Regions from separate parts of the Homo sapiens genome. Here regions 1 and 2 are each linked to region 3. The links come from fine-mapping of genetic effects on gene expression. A gene starts in region 3. Each other region holds a variant in brackets. All regions are shown on one strand. Distances are between the middles of the regions. Region 1 overlaps SLC25A47 (solute carrier family 25 member 47). Region 2 overlaps WARS1 (tryptophanyl-tRNA synthetase 1). Region 3 holds the start of WARS1 (tryptophanyl-tRNA synthetase 1).

The links. PIP is the estimated chance that this variant, and not a neighbour inherited with it, causes the effect.
Region 1: its variant is the best candidate, but not a certain one, in a credible set for the expression of WARS1 in monocytes after Pam3CSK4 (Quach 2016, PIP 0.70).
Region 2: its variant is the best candidate, but not a certain one, in a credible set for the expression of WARS1 in whole blood (TOPMed, PIP 0.66).

The regions. Positions count from the first base shown.
Region 1 is chr14:100,325,430-100,332,422 of GRCh38, forward strand. SLC25A47 (solute carrier family 25 member 47) reads left to right here. Exons shown (of 6, transcript NM_207117.4): 2 at 359-402; 3 at 728-799; 4 at 1,759-1,941; 5 at 3,297-3,615; 6 at 3,936-4,992. The coding sequence ends at 4,216. Among named protein-coding and RNA genes, the nearest start is that of SLC25A47, 5.6 kb to the left of the region's middle. The variant G/C (reference allele first, on the strand shown) is at 3,572.
Region 2 is chr14:100,346,195-100,353,187 of GRCh38, forward strand. It overlaps WARS1 (tryptophanyl-tRNA synthetase 1), which reads right to left. Exons shown (of 11, transcript NM_004184.4): 7 at 552-652. Among named protein-coding and RNA genes, the nearest start is that of WARS1, 26 kb to the right of the region's middle. The variant A/G (reference allele first, on the strand shown) is at 4,242.
Region 3 is chr14:100,371,413-100,378,405 of GRCh38, forward strand. WARS1 (tryptophanyl-tRNA synthetase 1) reads right to left here and starts at 3,935. Exons shown (of 11, transcript NM_004184.4): 1 at 3,871-3,935. WDR25 (WD repeat domain 25) reads left to right here and starts at 5,073. Exons shown (of 7, transcript NM_001161476.3): 1 at 5,073-5,083. RefSeq lists enhancers at 1-764, 3,887-4,026, 4,037-4,396 and silencers at 4,907-4,966, 5,157-5,206.

The sequences.
Region 1 (6,993 bases), 46 kb before region 3:
AGGGCCCAGCTAGGGTAGGATCAAACGTTCTCTCAGAGCATGACGCCCGTGGGGAGGCCGGGGCATGTCGGCATGTCTTTGGCCCAAGGCAGCGAGGACGAGGCAGTCCCGGGCCAGGACTCAGGGAAGGGGAACTTGCTTGCAAAGGGTAGAAGACACTCGGAGGCTCAATTTCCTCATCTCTAAAACGGGGGTGCCCTCAGGATTGATGAGACCTGGTGCAGACCAGAAGGGCCAAATGTGGGTCTGCCCTTGGGGGAGCCCAGTCAGCGTGCGCTCTGCTTCTGCTTCCCTGCAATGGGGTTGAACTGCTCGCCGGCCCCACTCTCCTCACCGTGGGCCTCTTCTTTCCTTGCAGGCGTCTGCGGTGTTGCTGTGGGCTACCCCCTGGACACGGTGAAGGTGCGGCAATAGCCAGCCCCCCAACCATCCTAAGGCCCCTGCACCTGTCCACGGCCAGGAGACTTTTCTAGAATGCTAAACAGACCCACCCCTTTCCTACCCAAATGCCTTCAATGGCTCCCCATAGCCCCTGGGACTATGTCAGTCCCACTTTCTCACCCCTGTGCCCCAGGTTTCTCGTCTAACACAAGGCTCCCTGTCCCTGCTGTGCCACCGTCCAGCATGGCTGGGACAATCAAGAGTGTGACTCTGCCCCTTCCCCAGGGCCTGCTGGCCTTGCCCTAGGCCTGGAGCCGCTCGTGCCTGAAGCCCACTTCTCCTGCAGGTCAGGATCCAGACGGAGCCAAAGTACACAGGCATCTGGCACTGCGTCCGGGATACGTATCACCGAGAGCGCGTAGGTCTGGGGCCAGGGGCTGGGTAGGGAGACAGGGAGGGGATGCTGGGCCTGCCTCCGCTGCCCAGCAGGTGATGCCAGGCTCCCCGCTGGGTCTCAGCTCTCTCACCTTCCACATGGGAATAGTTCTGCCAATCTCATGGGTTCCTCTGAGGTCTGGAGCCAGGACATCTGGCAGCTAGAGGGGCCTCAGAAGGAGGTTCCCACCTCCAGCAGAGGGTCTAGAGGTAGCGTTCAGGTCTTTGAAAGTCGGAGGAGGGACCCATGCACTGCATTTCTGTCTCCTCCAGGCCAGGCACCCCTTGAAGGCAGTGTTGGGTGGAGTCTTTAGGGTCTAGCTCAGAGACCTGTCCGGAGCAGTACTTGGCGACATTCTCCTACGTGGACTTGGGGCTTGGTGCAGGCCAGGGGCTAGTTTGTGAAAGCAGCAGTGGCAGAACATGCTGTTACTAGTTCATTGTCAGGCCAGGAGCGGTGGCTTACGCCTGTAATCCCAGCACTTTGGGAGGCCGAAGCAGGCAGATCACCTGTGGTCAGGAGTTCAAGACAAGCCTTGCCAACATGGTGAAACCCCGTCTCTACTAAAAATACAAAAATTAGCTGGAGGTGGTGGCAGGCACCTGTAATCGCAGTGGCTCAGGAGGCTGAGGCAGGAGAATCGCTTGAACCTGGGATGCGGAGGTTGCAGTGAGTTAAGATCGTGCCACTGCACTCCAGCCTGGGCAAAAAAAAAAAGTTCATCGTCATCAAGCAGCTGGGCTGGGTTGGGCCTGGTCCTCTGGCTCTTCAGGTCCCCCCTTGTGACCTCCATCTTACAGCAGAGGAAACTGAGGCCCTGAGGCCGTGAATGACCTTCCCGAGGTCCGACAGCGGAGTGCGGAGCAGGGCTGAGTGTGGGCTCCCTCGGGTGGCTCCTCCTCCTGGCGGGGCCCTAGCCTGACCTGGATCCTGTCTGCTAGGTGTGGGGCTTCTACCGGGGCCTCTCGCTGCCCGTGTGCACGGTGTCCCTGGTATCTTCCGTGTCTTTTGGCACCTACCGCCACTGCCTGGCGCACATCTGCCGGCTCCGGTACGGCAACCCTGACGCCAAGCCCACCAAGGCCGACATCACGCTCTCGGGATGCGCCTCCGGCCTCGTCCGCGTGAGTAGGGGCAGCCAGGGTGGGGAAGGCCCAAGAGAGACTGCGGGGTCTGAGAGGTTATCCATCCTGGCAGGTGGGGAAACTGAGGCTTGATGAGGGCAGACACTGGAGGCCATGCATGGAGTCAGGGGCTGTGGGAGAAGAACTCGCATCCCGCCTAGGCTGGGCCTGGAACCCCTCAGCAGCACACAGATGAGGGGGTCGCTGCTGTCCTGCCCAGCACGGCCCCCTCAGGAAGGGGGCTGTGACCAAAGGGACTCTCCCTGTCACGGTCAGAAGGTCACCTAGAAGCCACCATGGGGAGCTGAATAGGCAGGCCCCGGGCACTCATGGCTCCAGGCACGGAGATGCCTGAACACAGTCGGCCATTGCTGGATGTGGGCATTTCTCCATCCTCAACTGTGCATGGAGCACCTGCGGTGCCCGCCTGCCCTCAGGGAGCCCTTGCTCCCGCAGGGGAGACAGACTTTCGCACTTGGTGACAGCACGGAGCCAGCTGGAGCAGCCCAGCAGCTGAAGGCCTGGCCCAGGGGTCCAGACCACCAGGCCCAGCTCTCAGCTCTGACCCTCATGAGCTGAGCAACCTTGGGCAAGCAAGGGAGACTCTTGGAGCTTCTGTCTCTCCATCTGTAAGAGGCATGATGAGAATTTAGTGAAATCATGAGGGTAAAGCCCCCAGCACACATATGTGGAGTCCGACATGAATGAGTACCCACAAAGTGGCAGCCAGTATGTCTAGTGATTTTTTTTTTTTTTTTTGAGACAGAGTCTTGCTCGGTTACCCAGGCCAGTGTTTAGTGGCACCATCTCCGCTCACTACAACCTCTACGTCCCAGGTTCAAGCAATTCTCCTGCCTCAGCCTCCTGAGTAGCTGGGACTACAGGCACGCGCCACCAAGCCCGGCTAATTTTTGTATTTTTAGTAGAGATGGGGTTTCACCCATATTGGCCAGGCTGGTCTCAAACTCCTGATCTCGTGATCCGCCTGCCTTGACCTCCCAAAGTGCTGGGATTACAGGCGTGAGCCGCTGCGCCTGGCCATGGTATTATTTTATTGCTGATATGTTACTAAATACGTTCTTGAACCTGGGTCATGGAAATTATCTTACACGTCCCAGGAGAAGCCTGGCAGGCTGGCCTGGGAGAGATGTGGCTGCCGAGGAAGCATGGGCTTTGGCATTGGGTGGGCGGAGCTGGCTTTGGGCCCCGTGGCCCCCCAGCCCTGGGCCAGCCTGCAGGGTCTCGGGGCCCAACCTCCTGAGGTCACCGTGAGCAACATGAGGCTGGTGGGAGGCCAGGTCCAGGCTGTGGGCAGAGCCACAGGTGGCTGACCCCTGCTTCCTTCTCTGCTCCAGGTGTTCCTGACGTCGCCCACTGAGGTGGCCAAAGTCCGCTTGCAGACGCAGACACAGGCGCAGAAGCAGCAGCGGCGGCTTTCGGCCTCGGGGCCGTTGGCTGTGCCCCCCATGTGTCCTGTGCCCCCAGCCTGCCCAGAGCCCAAGTACCGCGGGCCACTGCACTGCCTGGCCACGGTAGCCCGTGAGGAGGGGCTGTGCGGCCTCTACAAGGGCAGCTCGGCCCTGGTCTTACGGGACGGCCACTCCTTTGCCACCTACTTCCTTTCCTACGC[G/C]GTCCTCTGCGAGTGGCTCAGCCCCGCTGGCCACAGCCGGCCAGGTGAGCAGGGGCTGGAACCTGGCAGGGCGGGGAGCCCAGAAGGATGAGGAGGTCAAGGTGAGGTCGTGCTGCCCGCCAGTACCCGAGTGGGGGCTTGAACTTGGCCTCCTGCCTCCCAGAGTGGGCTCCTCAGTTCTCCCAACACCAAGAGTCAGGACAGACTTGCTGTGTCACAGAGTCAGTGTGTGGTTGTGGACAAGTCCCATTCCCCTCTCCCAAGCCTGTTGCAAATGAGGACGGGCCGGAAGCGTGAGTCCAGGGTGCGCTGCCCTGGGCGCCCCGATCAGGCTCCCAGTCAAGGCACTGTGGTCTCTCTGCAGATGTCCCGGGCGTGCTGGTGGCCGGGGGCTGTGCAGGAGTCCTGGCCTGGGCTGTGGCCACCCCCATGGACGTGATCAAGTCGAGACTGCAGGCAGACGGGCAGGGCCAGAGGCGCTACCGGGGTCTCCTGCACTGTATGGTGACCAGCGTTCGAGAGGAGGGACCCCGGGTCCTTTTCAAGGGGCTGGTACTCAATTGCTGCCGCGCCTTCCCTGTCAACATGGTGGTCTTCGTCGCCTATGAGGCAGTGCTGAGGCTCGCCCGGGGTCTGCTCACATAGCCGGTCCCCACGCCCAGCGGCCCACCCACCAGCAGCTGCTGGAGGTCGTAGTGGCTGGAGGAGGCAAGGGGTAGTGTGGCTGGGTTCGGGACCCCACAGGGCCATTGCCCAGGAGAATGAGGAGCCTCCCTGCAGTGTTGTCGGCCGAGGCCTGAGCTCGCCCTGCCCAGCTACTGACCTCAGGTCGAGGGGCCCGCCAGCCATCAGCCAGGGTTGGCCTAGGGTGGCAGGAGCCAGGGAGGAGTGGGCCTCTTTGATGAGAGCGTTGAGTTGCATGGAGTCGGTTGTTCATCCCAGCCTCCCCATGGCCCTCGCCTCCCATGTCTTTGAAGCACCCCTCCAGGGAGTCAGGTGTGTGCTCAGCCACCCTCTGCCCCATTCCTAGACCCTCACCCCCACCACTGTTCCTGTGTCTTCACGAGCTGTCCCTTACAGGCAGGGGCTTCCCACAGGCTGGGGGCCTCGGGGCGGGGAGCATGAGCTGGGCTGGCACCACGACTGAGGGCTCCCGGCTCGGCTTCTTCCCCACAGCAGGCTGCTCAGAGGGGGTGCTGCCGGGACTGCCATGCCCACCTGAGAGGGGCCTGGGGTGGCCGTCCTCGGCCGGTTAGGGAATTTGGGGTGAGGTTCCTCAGGAGCCCTCACTCTGCCTGTGGACGCTGCACCTGCCACTTAAAGACCCCAAAGACTCTGTTGGGAACTGTTGTCAATAAAATGTTTCTGAGGATGTTCAGGGCTGTGGCTCCATGGCCGTGGGCTGACTGTTCCCTGCCCCCAGCAGCTTTGCACCCTGTGAGGCCTGCCCACCCGTCCTGGGAGGTGTGGGGCTGTGGCCCTGTCCTGCTCCCTTCCTGCTGGATGAGCCCTCGAAACCTGAGCTGCTGGTGCTCCCACTGTGCAGATGGCCACACTGAAACCCCGCCTGGCACTCTGGCGGGCTCCACTCTCTCGGCCTTCTGGGCTGTGGGGCCTAGCCTATGGTGCTGAGTCCTGCCGCAGGGGGCTGTTTAGCAGGGTACTTACTGTCCTCACCACCCTATCCCAAACCCACCCGCTTTCTGAGCGAAAGCTGGTTCCAGCCAGGCCCTCCCACCTGCCCTGAATGTGAGCTCCCCTTCCAGAGGGGGCTGCCCGTGGGAGGGCGCCAGGTGCCTTGCACAGCTCACCACAGCCACCTGACAGCTCCAAGAGGGAGGGGGCCTTGCCTGCCGTCACGCATCAGGGAGGGGTGGGTGGACTGCAGCCAGTGCTTCTGAGGCTCCAGCACCCCCCCTCCTGGCATCATGTGGCTTCCAATGATGGGGGCTATCAGGGGCTAGGGCTGGCAGGTCCAGCGTGAAGCCACCGGGTCTCCACCACAGCAGCCCTCTGGCAGGGCCAGAGGCCACCTGCATTGACTATATTCACTCATGGACACTGACCTTGACTGTGTCTGTGGACTGAACGCTGTCCTGTGTTCTGCCGAACAAAATTCTTCTGCTCCCAGAGTAAGGGGTGGAACCCCTCTTGTTACGCCAGTCCCCATATGTGTGGTGCTGTGGGCACCTGACCTTATGCCCTGTGCCCTCTGCCAGGAATACCCTCCTACTGCTCTGCCTGGCTGGCTCCACACCCCAGGCGCCACCTCCTCCAGGAAGCTCTCCTTGCCTGACCACTGGGCTGCTCCCAAGCATCTCTTGCTCTGCTCCCTTGGGGACCTGGTTGGGTGTGTGGTCACTCATCTGCCTCTCCCCGGCCACAAGAGCCTGCGGGCTGTGCAAGGACTCCATCTAGCTCCAGGGCTGCTGCATAGTAGGGGGTGTGGGATGAATGAGCGAGTGAATGAATGAATGAATGAATGAATAAGTCCTGCAGTAGATTCCAGGAAGTGTGTCCAGCTTAGGAGTTGCAGAGGCTGAGATGTTGTGGCCGAATGCCGGGAAAGGGCAGGCGCTGACAGGTTTCCATGGCTCATCAAACACTGACCCCGGGACCGTTTTTGTCGAGAAGACCCCACCTGTTCGGCCTTGGCAGGAGGGTTCCTGGCAGCACTCCTGGCCCGGCTCTGGCAGTGGCTGCACTCTGGGAGGTGGGGGCCTTTGGCTCTCCCTGAGCCCGTGTCACTGAGCAGCTGGCTCTGCGTGTCACTGGGGAGGGGGTTTGCAGGAAAGGCCTCTGTCCTCACTGTTTTTTTTTTTTTTTTGAGACGGAGTCTCGCTCTGTCGCCCAGGCTGGAGTGCAGTGGCGCGATCTCGGCTTGGCTCACTGCAAGCTCTGTCTCCTGTGTTCACGCCATTCTCCTGTCTCAGCCTCCCGAGTAGCTGGGACTACGGGTGCCCACCACCACGCCTGGCTAATTTCTTTTTGTATTTTTAGTAGAGATGGGGTTTTACCGTGTTAGCCAGGATGGTCTCGATCTCCTGACCTCGTGATCTGCCCGCCTCAGCCTGGGATTACAGGTGTAAGCCACCGCGTCTGGCTGTCCTCACTGTCTTTACAACCTCTATGGTAATGACCAGAGAGTCCTGGGCCTCAAGGCCCAGCCAGTGTGACCCTGGGGAGGGCACATCTGCTGGTGCTGCAGGCGGGCACTGGGGGCCAGAGGCAGGCCTGTTGCTTGCCAAGTGCCGTCCTGGAGCAACGAGCTGTTCCACAGCCACCCGTGTGCTCAGCCACCCTCCTTCCTGTCCCTGCTTCCCCACCCAGTGCTGTTTTGTGTGCTTCTCAGGCACCATCTCCTTTCAGGCAGGCTCAGCTGGTCTCTCCTCCAGGCTGGGGGCCACGGGACAGAGAGACTG
Region 2 (6,993 bases), 25 kb before region 3:
GCACGTGGGAGGCAAACCATTTGCACATCTGCTGGGGTGGAGCCATGGAAGGAGAGCAGGGCAGGGGTGGGAAGGCTCCAGAAGACCTCGTGTCAAGCCCCTCATCTTACATGTGGGGACACTGAGGCCCAGGGAGACAAAGACTCAAAGGCCCTCTCATGGGCAGCAGACCCAGCTGTCCTTCTTCATCACCCCTGGGTTCCATCCAAGGCCACCCTACACTGACTGGGGTCCCACCAGAGCTGTTGGAACTCCAAAGTCATCCTTAGATTTTTCTTTCTTCTAAACCTTAAGACGGGTGACAAGAGAGGGACAGACTCACATCCTGAAGTGCAGCTTCACCCAACCCAGAGAAGCTGCTCAATGCATTACACTAGCTAGTCAGATTCCAGGACAACGATGACCCACCCACGCCTGGGCATCCTACTTAAAGAGACAGTTGCAAACGCTAACATCTCAGAGATATTTAAACCAGGCATGTGTCTCCTCCAGAACTCTGCTCCTTTTTGAAGGGTGCAGGGAGTGGTCCACAGCAGCAGTGGGCCTCTTACCAATGCAGTCGCTGTCAGTGAAGCCGAAAATGCCTTTCACTTGGTTGAAGGTAACATGCTTTTGAATCTTCACCACATTTTTGTAGAAACCTGAGCTCATCCTGCAAAGACAACGAGAATGAAATCCCAAACGGAGGGCGGCCTTCACTGAAGGCAAAGTCACAGTTATTAAAATTGGATGCCAATGAGTAGTGGCATGGGCCAGACTCGGGGCCACATTGTGGTCAACACGTAAGCACTGGGAAGGTGCCAGGAAGTCATCTGTAGGCAAAGATACCTGCATCAGGCAAAGCAGACACACGTTTACCTGTGGAGTTGACTGGGAAAGGCAGAAACCAGTGTGAAACCGACGTGAAGCAGACATACAAACAAGGCAAGAACACAAGCAGATTCAGAGACTTGCAGCTAGCATGAAAAATTTAAATTCTGCCAGGGTCAGCAGTTCAGTGGGCTGTGGAGCTCAAGTCTGGGAGCCCCCAGGAGCTTCTTAGCTGAGACATACTGTGTTGTGGGAGACCATCTGCTTGTTGTCGGATGAGCGTATGGATAGAAACCCACGGCCCGAGAAGGAGGAAGGCCTGTTTCAGTGCAGCTGGTCCTCCTAGTCTCTGGCCACTGCTCCCCCCTGCTGTTTGGGCAGAACTAACCCTATCCACAGCAACAGGGCTAGGCCACAGTGGCTGATTCAAGCAACCCAACTCTCTCTTCTGGATGGTGAGGGGTGTGGGTACCAGGCCTGAATGTGTGGCATCCATTCCACTACCAGAAGGAACTAGGCTGAAGAAGAAGCAAACACAGTGGGGTGTAGGGGTTTGGCAGAACCCAGAGTGGCTTCTTTTTTTTTGTTTTGAGACAGAGTCTCACTCTGTAGCCCAGGCTGGAGTGCAGTGGCATGATCTTGGCTCACTGCAACCTCCATCTCTTGGGTTCAAGCAATTCTCCTGCCTCAGCCTCCTGAGTAGCTGGGATTACAGCTGCTCGCCACCATGCCTGGCTAATTTTTGTATTTTTAGTAGAGATGGGGTTTCACCATGTTGTCCAGGCTGGTCTCAAACTCCTGACCTCAGGTGATCCACCTGCCTTGGCCTCCCAAAGTGCTGGGATTACAGGTGTGAGCCACCGCGCCCAGCCAAGTGGCTTCTTATATTGCATCTTTGTATTACTATATTCAGTAGCTTTTTCTCTAGGCCCTACCATGTGTTAGACACTACGAGGGAAAAGGGGGAAGGCTGGTGTCTTTTAAGTGTTTGCACCATGTGGCAGGAGCTGTGCTAGATGCTGCGTATGTGTCAATACTCCTAAAATCCCCTTCAAAGTAGTAGCATTGCCTCCACCTTACAGTTAGACTAGGCTCAAAGAAGTTCAGGGTCATAGTCACAGGCCCAGTGAGTACAGGGGCTGGGATCCCAACACAGATTCACCTGGCCCCAAAGCCTATGCTTTTCTCACCACATCTTATCCTTTAGAAGAGTTTAGACTTTTGGGGCAGGGTGGAGAACTACTGAATGTCTTTGTGCAGGTGGGGTGGGGTGTCAGGAGTGCAGGAACACTGGCCGTTTGTGCTGGGCGAAGCACAATGCTGGGAGGCCTGTAACGGTCAAGGTCAGTGCCAAGGCCTGTCCAGGTTGAGCAGAGGCAGCACGTGAGGGATGGACTGTGTCTTTCGCCTAGCAGCCGGCTGAGTTTCAGGCCCTGGGGGGCACTGGAGAGGGCGGGCGCAGTACTGTGAAGGGGCATGCCAGGAGAACCCAGCATCTGTGTCACCCACTCAGCACAATGGAAACAACAGAGAGCAAGAGCACAGCCAACAGCAGCACTGCCTGGAAAGATGCGGCCTTTGTCCTCCTGCCAAGCAAGCCAAGAACACCGCAGGCAGGGAGGGTCCCTCCTGGGCACCGCAGCAGGACTCACAGCCAGTAAGGACAGCAGCTGTCTGTCACCTGGGGAGATGGGCTGCAGCAAAGACTCCATGCGCCCTTGGGATTGAGGCACCTGGGACACCCTAACCCCTACAAGGAGGGAAAGTCTCCAGTACCCCCAAACTGTGGCAGGACTGTAGCTTCACGGCGTCTGACTGGTATTTCTGAGTTAGAGCACGCTGCCCTTTCTTAGAAGACTGGTCATTACTTGCTGCAAGCTGCTGCCACTGTGCTGGCTGCAGGGTGAATGCAGGTGCTGCACCGTGAGCACGTGTGATCCTCCCCTCAAGGGACGGCTGTCCCCCTGCACAGCTGGGACGGACCCATCACGCAAAGCAGCCATGCCAGTGCCGGCACATGGAGGCTTCTCACTGGCTGCAGTGAACACACCTAACTGTATATCACATGTGGCTGAACCACCAGTTACCCCAGGGAGGGCACCTGCTTTTCACTCTCAGACAGGGTTTAAAGTGGGAAGAGATTTTAGATTACAACATTTACTGAGCACTCCCCAGGTGCCAGGCGTGGCTTGAAGCACTTTATATGCAGTGCAGGCACTATCATCTCCTGACCACAGTCTTCTCTACCCCTGCCCTTTGTCCCTATTATCACCATAGAACTTATTATCACCTGATTGATCACCTGTTAGCTGATTCTCCCCATTAGAAGAGAGGCTTTACACAGCTGCTGAGATAATGGTTTTGCTCCCTGCTGTACCCCCACCATGAGTCTGGCATATAGCAGATGTCCAATAAATATTTGTAGAACAAAGGAGCAGAGTGAAGAAAGCAGGCAGAGAGGAGCTCCTCCCATGCCCGGGCCACACAGTGGAAGGCTCCTCCCATGCCCAGGCCACACAGCGGACGGCCGTCAAGCAGAGCACTTGCAACCTCTGCTATGCTGCCCCCCACTAGCACCCAGCTCCCTTCCTCACAGGAACATGGAAGCTCAGAGATTTAAGGACTTGCCCAAGGGAACAAGACCAGGCAGGGGCAGAGCTGGGTCTGGAACACAAGTTTTCAGACTCCCAGCTCAGTGCCTTTGCATCCCTCAGGGCCCTGGGCAGGAAGGCCGTTCTGGGGCCATGTGCAATGTGCAGGGGGAACTGCACTGGCCTCCTCCCTCATGGAGGCCTCACCACCTCCCTCCCACTCAAAGAGGGCGATGGCTGGCTTTGTTGAATTTCCAGCTCCTAAACACCAGGAAGGAGCTTTATTAAGCCAAAGATATAGATTTTGAGTTAAATTCAAGAAAGAAAAGTAAAATGCTCAAATGTTTAGAAGAAACTCTTAAAGTAAAATGTTTGAATAGAGGATTTACCCTTTAAAATGTCTCTCCTCACTTTAGGTTCAATATAAAATGCCTTTCAAGAAAAGATATCATCGACCCTTTTGGTTGACATACTGTCTGGGTTTCATCTTTACCCCATGTTTGTAAGAAAAAAGGAAGTTCCCGACCAGGTGCAGTGGCTCACGCATCCCAGCACTTTGGGTGGTCGAGGCGGGTGGATCACTTGAGGTCGTTCGAGACCAGCCTGGCCAACATGGTGAAACTCCGTTTCTACTAAAAATACAAAAATTAGCTGGGTGTGGTGGCGGGCGCCTGTAATCCCAGCTACTCAGGAGGCTGAGGCATGAGAATTGCTTGAACCCAGGAGGCAGATATTGCAGTAAGCCGAGATCATGCCACTGCTCTCCAGTTTGGGCGACAGAGCAAGACTCCATCTCAAAAAAAGAAAAAAAAAAAAAAAAAGGAAGTTCTTATTTAGCGA[A/G]GGTGGAGGCTGGTCAGGAGCTGCAACCGCAGTTGCCAAAGAGACAGCACGAGGAATGGCGGCCTCACTCCACGTTCAGAGAGCGCTGAAAGTGGGGTTGCTCAGGTGGTGGTCTTTTCACATGGACTGTTCAAAAGTTCATCTACCCCATCGTGCATCTATTGGCTGAATCAGCTTCATGGACTATTATAGGCACTTGCTCTTGTCTCACCACCAGCATTTATATCCATCAACGAAGCGGCTCAGCTTTGCTTCTGCTGTGTCTGTGGGGCCCAGGAGGGGATGGGCCACAGAGAGCACAAATTCAGGAACTATGTGTCTTACTCAGCTAGTGGGGAGAGGGCCACACTGTACCAGATGTGGCAGAGGTAAGGCCCAGCCTGATGGAGGACCAGAGAGGGGCATCTAAATTTGGCTGTGGGGAGGGAAAGCTCCTAGGAAAAGGTGATGCTTGATCATGCCTTTGGAAGAAAGTGTAGGAATTAGCTAAGCTGGGGGTGGCAGGGTCAGGAGAGTGGGTGGGAATTCTGGGCAGCACAGAGCATGTACAAAGGAGAAGGATGTGGAACTGCAAGCTGTTCCACTGAGCTGGAGGTAGCAGTGACGCTGGAGAGGAACACAGGGCCAATCACGAAAGGGCTCGTGTGCCAAGTGAAAGGTGAGAATTCTCAATGTCATCTAAGGAGGAGAGCTGGGAAAGACCCGCAAGTGGAAGATGAGATTAGCTCTGAGTTTTAGGGAGATCACTGGCTGGTGGGGGCAGTGGTGGTGTGGGAAGAGGATAGCAGCTACTGGGCAATGCCAGCAGCACTGCCTGACTGGAAAAGGAGAAGCAGAACCCACAGTTGTCTCTGCAGAGGTTCAATCAGTTGAATCATTGTATGGAATGGGGTGAGAATAAGGAAATAAAGTGCCATGAAAATTATACTAACACGGCTGGGCATGGTGGCTCACACCTGTAATCGCAGCACTTTGGGAGGCTGAGGCGGGGAGGATCACTTGAGGTCAGGAGTTCAAGACCAGCCTGGCCAACATGGCAAAACCCATGAGTGAGACTCTGTCTCAAAAAAAAAAAAAAAAAAGAAAATTATGCTAATGATGACATCTATGTTCTTGTTTGATCCCATTTCATGGACACGGCTGCTATGACACACAGCCACTAAACCCAGGTGCCAGGATCTGGATCCCTGTCTATTTTCCTTCCTTCAAGGATGCCACAGGGCCTCCATGCTCACATGGCTGAACCAAGAGAAGTAATTTTAAAAGATCTAATAGGTGCTGGGCGTGGTGGCTCATGCCTGTAATCCCAGTGCTTTGGGAGGCCGAGGCAGGCAGATCATGAGGTCAGAAGATCGAGACCATCCTGGCTAACACAGTGAAACCCCGTCTCTACTAAAAATACAAAAAATTAGCCGGACATGGTGGCGGGCACCTGTAGTCCCAGCTACTTGGGAGGCTGAGGCAAGAGAATGGTGTGAACCTGAGAGGCGGAGCTTGCAGTGAGCCGAGATTGTGCCACTGCACTCCAGCCTGGGTGACAGAGCGAGACTCCGTCTCAAAAAAAAAAAGAAAAAGAAAAAGCTAACAGTTTTACTGGCTGATAGAAGGGCGAGATTTCCTATCAGGGTATACATTGCTCTCAATGGATATAAAACCACTACTCAGTTTCTTTCTTTTTTTTTTTTTTTTTTTTTGAGACAGAGTCTCACTCTGTTGCCCAGGCTGGAATGCAGTGGCATGATCTCGGCTCACTGCAACCTCCGCCTCCCAGGTTCAAGCGATTCTTCTGCCTCAGCCTCCCAAGTAGCTGCAACTACAGGAGCACGCCACCACACCCGGCTAATTTTTGTGTTTTTAGTAGAGATGGGGTTTCACCATATTGGCCAGGCTGGTCTCGAACTCCTGACCTCCTGACCTTGTGATCCACCCACCTCAGCCTCCCAAAGTGCTGGGATTACAGGCATGAGCCACCGCGCCTGGCTGCCACTACTCAGTTTTAAGGTCTTATAAGAGGGAACGTTCTGGGGATGCGGCTCTAAGCAAGTCCTCCTGTGCTCACTGCTCACCTGCCCCTTTAGTGTCCCTCTTATCCTGCCTCGGCATGGTCCCTGATGGTGAGCTAACATGGGAGGGCCTGCTCAGAGCCCAGCCTGGGCTGCAGGAGCATAGCAATGAACCCACTCCTCCTGGGGAATCACTTTAGGGGAGGAGTAACACGTCTTTGGGGAGTGGAGTAACATGCCTTAGGGGAGTACCATGCCTTAGGAGAGACCACGCCTTAGGGGAGTACTATGACTTAGAAGAGTATCTCACCTTAGGGGAGTACCACAACTCAGGTGCTCAAGAAATATTTGTTGAGCTAGATAGTATCCTTCTTGTGATGGTTGACCAAAGTCTTATTTTTCTAACACATTTCTTGGTAATCATTTGGGATGAAACTTGAAGGATTTTCAGAATGAAATATTTTGGTTTATTAAATGGCTGATTAAAAGAACTAGACTGAGGAAACTGTGTAACCACTGAGTCTTTTCTCTGTGAGGAAAAGGTGCGTTGAAAAGGAGGAAGACATAACTCTGGAAGACTGACTATCCTTGGCAAGAAACTGCAAGGCAGGACTTCCTGGCACAGCTGAGGATGAAGATCTGAGATGCCATCATGCTGTGGCTGAGCCCATATTTTAAATTTCTGTAAATGTAATTATGGAGACAATAATCGAGTCTTTAAGATACTGATATCACTTAATCCTTTCTAT
Region 3 (6,993 bases):
GCACCCCAGCCTGGGTGACAGAAAGGTTCTGTCTCAAAAAAAAAAAAAAAAAAAAGTAGGCCAGGTGTGGTGACTCATGCCTGTAATCCCAGCACTTTGGGAGGCCAAGGAGGGTGGATCAAGACCAGCCTGGCCCACATGGTGAAACCCCATCTTCACTAAAAATACAAAAATTAGCCAGGCATGGTGGCATGTACCTGTAGTCCCAGCTACTTGGGAGGCTGAGGCATGAGAATCACTTGAACCTGGGAGGCAGAGGTTGCAGTGAGCTGAGACCATGCCACTGCACTCCAACCTGGGCAACAGAGAGAGACTCTGTCTCAAAACAAAAAAAATTCCAAAAAGTATGTAAATCACGGGTGCTGTGAGCGGTGGCTCACAACTGCAGTCCAAGTGCTTTGGGAAGCAGAGGCGATTGCTTGAGCTCAGGAGTTCAAGAGCAGCTTGGGTAATGTCAGGTCTCTGAGCCCAAGCTAAGCCACCATATCCCCTGTGACCGGCACGTACACATCCAGATGGCCTTAACTGATGACATTCCTTCACAAAAGAAGTGAAAATGGCCTGTTCCTGCCTTAACTGATGACATTCCCTTGTGAAATTCCTTCTCCTTGCTCATCCTGGCTCAAAAGCTCCCCTGCTGATCACCTTGTGACCCCTGCCACCTGCCCGCCAGAGAACAATCCCCTTTGACTATAACTTTCCTTTACCTACCCAAATCCTATAAAACGGCCCCACTCCTATCTCCCTTCCATGACTCTCTTTTTGGACTCAGCCCGCCTGCAGCCAGGTGAAATAAACAACCTTGTTGCTCACACAAACCCTGTTTGGTGGTCTCTTCACACGGACACGAGTGACACGAGTGAAAGGTAACATGGATAGTGAGACCCTGTCTCTCCAAAAAATTTTTATAAAATAAAAAAACAAAAATTGAAAAAAAAGTATGTAAATCAAAACTTATTTAATTCAATGAAACTATAATACTGAAAACCGGGACAGGACAGCAGCCAGTTTCTTTCTCCTCCTTGATGAGAACCACCTCAGTTCCCAGAAAGGGAGGTTTGGTGAGATAACTGACTCAGATAAGAAAGCATCCAGTTTAGGGAGGAATGCCGGAGTACCCTCTGCCTAGGGCTAGAGAGAACTCTCAGGCTCTCCCATTCCCTCCCCAGCAACAAGCTGAGCAAATCAGTCGAAATCCATTTCTCTCTAAGGTCTCTGTCCATATCAAATAACGATCAAACTCATGAAAATTACTTCTAGCCACAAATCATCAATCATCATGTCCAGAAACCTATCCTGAATTCTCCCAACTCTCAAAGCTGGGTGTTACTCTATGTGCCCTGCAATAGCAGACAAGAGGCTGATGGCTCCATTACCAGGGAGTAGCTAAGCCAGAATCTGATTCCCAAGCCCCCTTGCTCATGTGCTCTCTCAGAATCCCTGCTGCTCCCTGCTGCCTGCCTGCCTGCCTGCCTGAAATGTCTCACACCCTTCTCTGCCTGAACTCTGCTGATTGATTATCTTTCCAATTTGAACCTCAGCTCTTCACAGCCTCTCCTGACACCTATGCTTCTGGGAACAAGTTGGTTGCTCCATCCTTTGTGATCCCCAAACACTCCTTTAGTAACTTTATGAAAGCACTCACACTGCAGTTTAGTTATTCATGTCTTCCCCAGCAGACAGCAAAGGTAAGCCCTGGGTTTATTCTTCCATGTACCTCTAGTACCTGGCACACAGCTTATCAAAAAATATTTACCTAATGAATGAATCTCCTTAGTCATCTAGTTCAACTTTTTCCTCTAAGGTTTATCCTTAGAATGTCTTTACTTGTTCCAGTTGAAGACTGATTCCCCCAGCTGGACTTTAGATGGCCTCTTGTTTAACGTCCTGGTACTGAGTTGAGCTTTCCCACATCTAAGGAGAGCCAGGCTGGTCTCTTGGGGTCTCCTCCAGGTCTCCCAACCTTAGTCTGTTTTCTTCACCCTCTGCTAACATCTGCCCACCATCCTGGTCACTATTTTTGGAATTCCTTTTGGTTTACCCTGTCCTTCCAAAAAATGTGGTGCCCCGCGTGAAGGCAACAAGGCAGCAGCAGTAAGGTTTTGAAGTCAATCAAGTATAAAAATTATCCTTAAAAATTCCAGGGGAAAGTGCCAGGTAGAATGCCTGAGTGATCCCAGGACAGCCAATCTCCCACTGCAATAGAATAGATAACTGTTTCTTTGCTAGAGGATCAGCTAGATAAACAGGACTTGCATTTAGGGTCCATGTTGCAGGGAAAAACATGTGTCTATAAATATCAGAACTCCATTTAAGAAGCACATGGGAATGAAATTAGACTGAGGAAATAGCAGATGATCATGATCACAAGGCATATACTTTGCGTGGGAATCATCCACACTATTGAAATCTTGTGTGTGTGTGTGTGTGTGTGTGTGTGTGTGTGTGTGTGTATGATGCAACTTTCTGTGTGGTCAGAGACAAGGAGAATGGAACTACCATCTTCCTCATTTCACGCATTTATGAGTTTACCCCATTTCCTGTGTAAATGTTCTTCTTCCCCCTACCTATTGACATCCTCCTTTATTTCTTTGTTGACTTTCAGAATTGAGTTGAACTTCAGAGGTTTTTCAACTTGGAGTTCAGGAACATCTGAAATTACATTAATGCTTGCAAGTACATTGGTATGTACATGGTTTTGAGCAGTCTCCTGGCTTTCTTACCTTTCGAAAGGAGGCTGAGATGCCAAAAGGTTAAGGACCATTGTCTTCAGTGTTTACCACATAAATTGCAAATAGGACATTGAGACTTTGTTAAGAGAAGTAGATTCACCTGTTTAACAAATAGTACACTCTGAAACAAAGAAATGCAGTTATAACCAGTGAAGTACTCTATTATCTTCCCTAAACAAAAGTACTGGGCGTGTAAAGAGCAAAACTGCCTACTCCACAGCAGATCACAGCAGACCTTCAAGGAGAAAGCTAAAAAGCCTCTTGAAAATTAACCCCCAGTTCCCCCTTTTCAAGAACTTGAATCTTGTGCTCATTCTGAAAGTTTCCACTGTGGTGGAGGAGCATAATAGGCACTTAAAGAAACTGGGTATTGTATTGGGATGAGGAGTGGAAAGGACTATAGAATTGTTTAACAGAACAACATGATAAAGACTTGGGTTGCATCAAAATCATCTCACAGAGATCAGGGCACGCTGATTCTGCAATCTGGGGAAGGGTGGCATCAAGACAGCCAATTCTGGAGCAGGTGAGAAGAGAATGTGGCCCAGGAGTGTTTCTGGATCCCTGGAATACCACCAGGAGGTAGAATACCATCCTTTCTATCTTGGCCCCAGAGTGTAGGTGACAATACCTTTGGACTGGCAAGTTCCCAGAGGACAAGAAAATGACTTCTTTAGAGCAAGGATTTCTTGACACCTTTTGGGACCCATCATGTTCCATTTTTTTTAAACACTAAAAGAAAGATTGCTTTCCCCGCCAAATAACAGCATGAACATTATCTTAAAAGGCAAAGACATTAATTTCTATGAAGCCAGGCACGAGACACTTTTGGGTGTCACAATAAGAATGACAATACGTTCTGATGTTGAGCACAGAAGGAGGGTGCATCAGTGAAAATTATGACAGACAGCATGACGGTGCTGAGAGGCAAGCTACGGATCCAAGCCCGCGACTGCTCAGCCAGGATCTCTGTTCCCTATGGGAGCAGTGAATCACCTGAACTTTGGGTCAATGGAAGAAGTAAAATGCATAACACCCTAATCCTAAGACACAAGTCCTGACCCCCTAAACCAAGGTTTTCAGCACTTTGCTAAAAACACGAACAAGCTCTAAGCCTGGCAAAGATGGCAATACATACCCAGGTTGTGGAAGACACTGCAGAGGTGGCCACTGGTCACGCTGGGCAGTTGAGCTGCTGAGAGTGCCCTGCCCAGCCAGAAATGGTCTTTAATACTCTTCCCCTCTTTCTTTCAGTTTCCCTTCTGAAAAAAGATGCTTTTGTCTTTCGTTCTCCCCACCCTGCATTCAGCTAAGGGTTTCTTATAAATCACCCAGATTCTCAGAAACACTTGAGCTCTTGACCAACCTTCTTGATGAGACTGTCCAATCAGGGGTGGGTTGCCTGGGGGGCCAGGTTGAGACCAATGAAACCCTCTTGAGAATCGAGCCATTAGCTGGTCATTGCATCAGCCACCCCTCACCCCCCGCTGGCCTCCAAATAACCTCCCCACCCTCTTCCCGTTCCCCACCCTCAGCGTCAGTGTGACTGATTTTGTGTAGTCGTGGGCGGTGGAAAGAGAAACTGTAAATTCCCCGCATCTGTTCACCGAGGCGGCACAGTGCAGTGGAAAGATCAGGAGTTCTGGGGTCACAGACGCCTGGGTTTCAATCCCAGCTTGGACTTATTCGAAACCTTGGGCAAGGGTCGCATTACTTTTCTGCTTCCCCTTCGGTTTCCTCATCTGTGGAATGGGCATGGAGAAGCCTGCTAACATTACCGTTGAGGGGACTAAGTGCAACACTACGCAAAGCCTCTGGCACATGGCAGGCGCTAAATAAAAATGGGGGCCTCTCTCCTCGGGAAAAGCGAACAGGCGGAGACGATGAAGGGTGCCAGTGGGAAAGGGAGACGGGGTGGGTCGGCGGCGCTCAGAGGAAAGGGGCGAGGGGTCGGTGGCAGGCTCCGCGCCTCACAGTGCCAGAACGCGGCGGGCAGCAAGCCGGGCTCTAAGGATACTCCCGGGAGGGCCAGGCCACTGGGCGCCGCGCCAGCGTCCCTCCATCACTCCCTCCCTTGTTTCCTCACTCCGCCCCGGCCTTACTCCCCTCGCTTACCCTGCCCAGCCGGGCCAGTCAGCGCTCCCGGCTCAGCAACCGGCTGTCTCCTGGGCGTCCGTGGAAACGCCGTCCGGACGGAACAACTTCCGGCCCGACGGCGCCGTCATTGGCTGTTCGCGCGGGGGCGGGGCAGAGGCCGCCACTGATTGGCTGGCGGCCGCGGCGTCGCGTCGGAACGTGACTGGATGGTAGTGTGCTGGCCGGTCTGCCTCCGGGAGAACCGAGCGCTTCCGGTGCGTGTGGTGAGCGGCGGGCCCCGGGCTGGAGGGGCCGGGACTGGGCAGCGCCTAAAGCGCCCCGTGCCGCTTAACGCGGTCTCTCATAGCCGCTCGCCTTCCTTTCACTTCCTGTTCCTTCAGAAAGCGCTGTGCCTTGGACCAACCTTACTTCTTACTATTGACAGCTCAGCTAACTCCTATTCATCCTTCAAAACCCATCTCTGGTCGTATCTTGTTTGTTGCTTTCATCGCTCTGGGGCCTCCGGGGGGATCTGTGTTTTGTGTTTGATTTCCACCCACACCAGACCCAGCATAGGGCTTGACAAAGAGTACGTAATCAGGAAATGTTTGTTGAATGGGAATATCCTATTTCTTTTACTTCCTAGCATCTCCCCCTCCCACCCGTTTGCATTCCAGAAATATTTTTAGACGCTGGGCATTGAATAGTGAACAAAACACAGAAAGTCCTGTCCTCATGGGGCTGACTTGCTGATAGTGACTGTCAGAGTCACTCGCTCCTTCCTTAGACTCTTCTCCAGTGTCCCTGCCTTCCCTTCCATCTTACTGTCTGTTCCTCTTCGTTTAATCCCTCATCTCCTTCCAGAGGGAGCACGGGCACCCTGGTGGTGGGAATCTGGGTGCATGGTGGGTGGTGCCTGGGCAGAGGAGTTGAGAGTGGCCTCGGGACCAGGCTTAGCATTTAGAGAACAGAAATGCCAAATTATTTGCAGTGCACGGTTCCATTAGTTTATAATTAGTCTTTCATATTATATTAGTTCCATTGGAGATGAGCTGGCTGGCTGGCTTTAGAAGTTGTTGTTGTTGTTGTTGTTTTTTGAGACCAAGTCTCGCTCTGTAGCCCAGGCTGGAGTGCAGTGGCGTGATCTCCACTCACCGCAACCTCCGCCTCCCGGGTTCAAGCAATTCTGCGGCCTCAGCCTCCAGAGTAGCTGGGATTACAGGCGCGCACCACTGCACACGGCTAAATTTTTTTTTTTTTTGTATTTTTAGTAGAGACGGGGTTTCACCATGTTGGCCAGGCTGGTCTTGAACCCCCGACCTCAGGTAATCCGCCCTTCTCGGCCTCCTACAGTGCTAGGATTACAGGCGTGAGCCACCGCGCCCGGTCGTTTTATTTAAACTCTGGCTTTGCGTGTGGAAGTTGTTACCTGCCTGGAATGGGCTGCGAACGGGGGCGGCATTACTAGAGGAGGCTGACTACAGACATTTATGGAATGATGACCTGACTTGTAGACCAGTGGAACCCTCAGGCGAATGATGCCACTTGGGGGAAAGGTGTGGAAGAGGTTGGGTGGTTGATTCCAGGGGACATAGAAACCCATTGTCTAGAAGAAGAGATGGGTAATAGGCTGTCTGGAATGACTTAGAAAAGGACTTGGAGGGAATCTGTTGATGCTGACCTGACTCCACCTGTTGGGGGATGGAGGCGGAGCTTGGCGTGTTTGATTAAGGTTGGGTGCACTGGGTTTTCTTGGAAGTCGGTCTATTGCCTGAGCGTTCTGTGCTGTTCCACCGCGCCCTCTGCTGTCCTAGGAGTGCCTAGCACCCTTCTTTTTCTCTGGATTGTGCTTGGTGCTAACAGCACAGAAGTAAAAAATTACCAAAGCACTTCTTTCTGGGAACTAATTGATAACCATGTATTGTGTATGATGGTTCAGAATTTCAGAAAGATTTTTTTTTTTTTTGAGACGAAGTTTCACTCTTGTCGCCCAGGCTGGGGTGCAATGGCGCGATCTTGGCTCACTGCAACCTCTGCCTCCTGGGTTTAAATGATTCTCCTGCCTCAGCCTCCCGAGTAGCTGGGATTACAGGCGTGTGCCACCACGCCCGGCTAATTTTTGTATTTTAGTAGAGACAGGGTTTCACCATGTTGGCCAGGCTGGTCTCGAACTCGACCTCAGGTG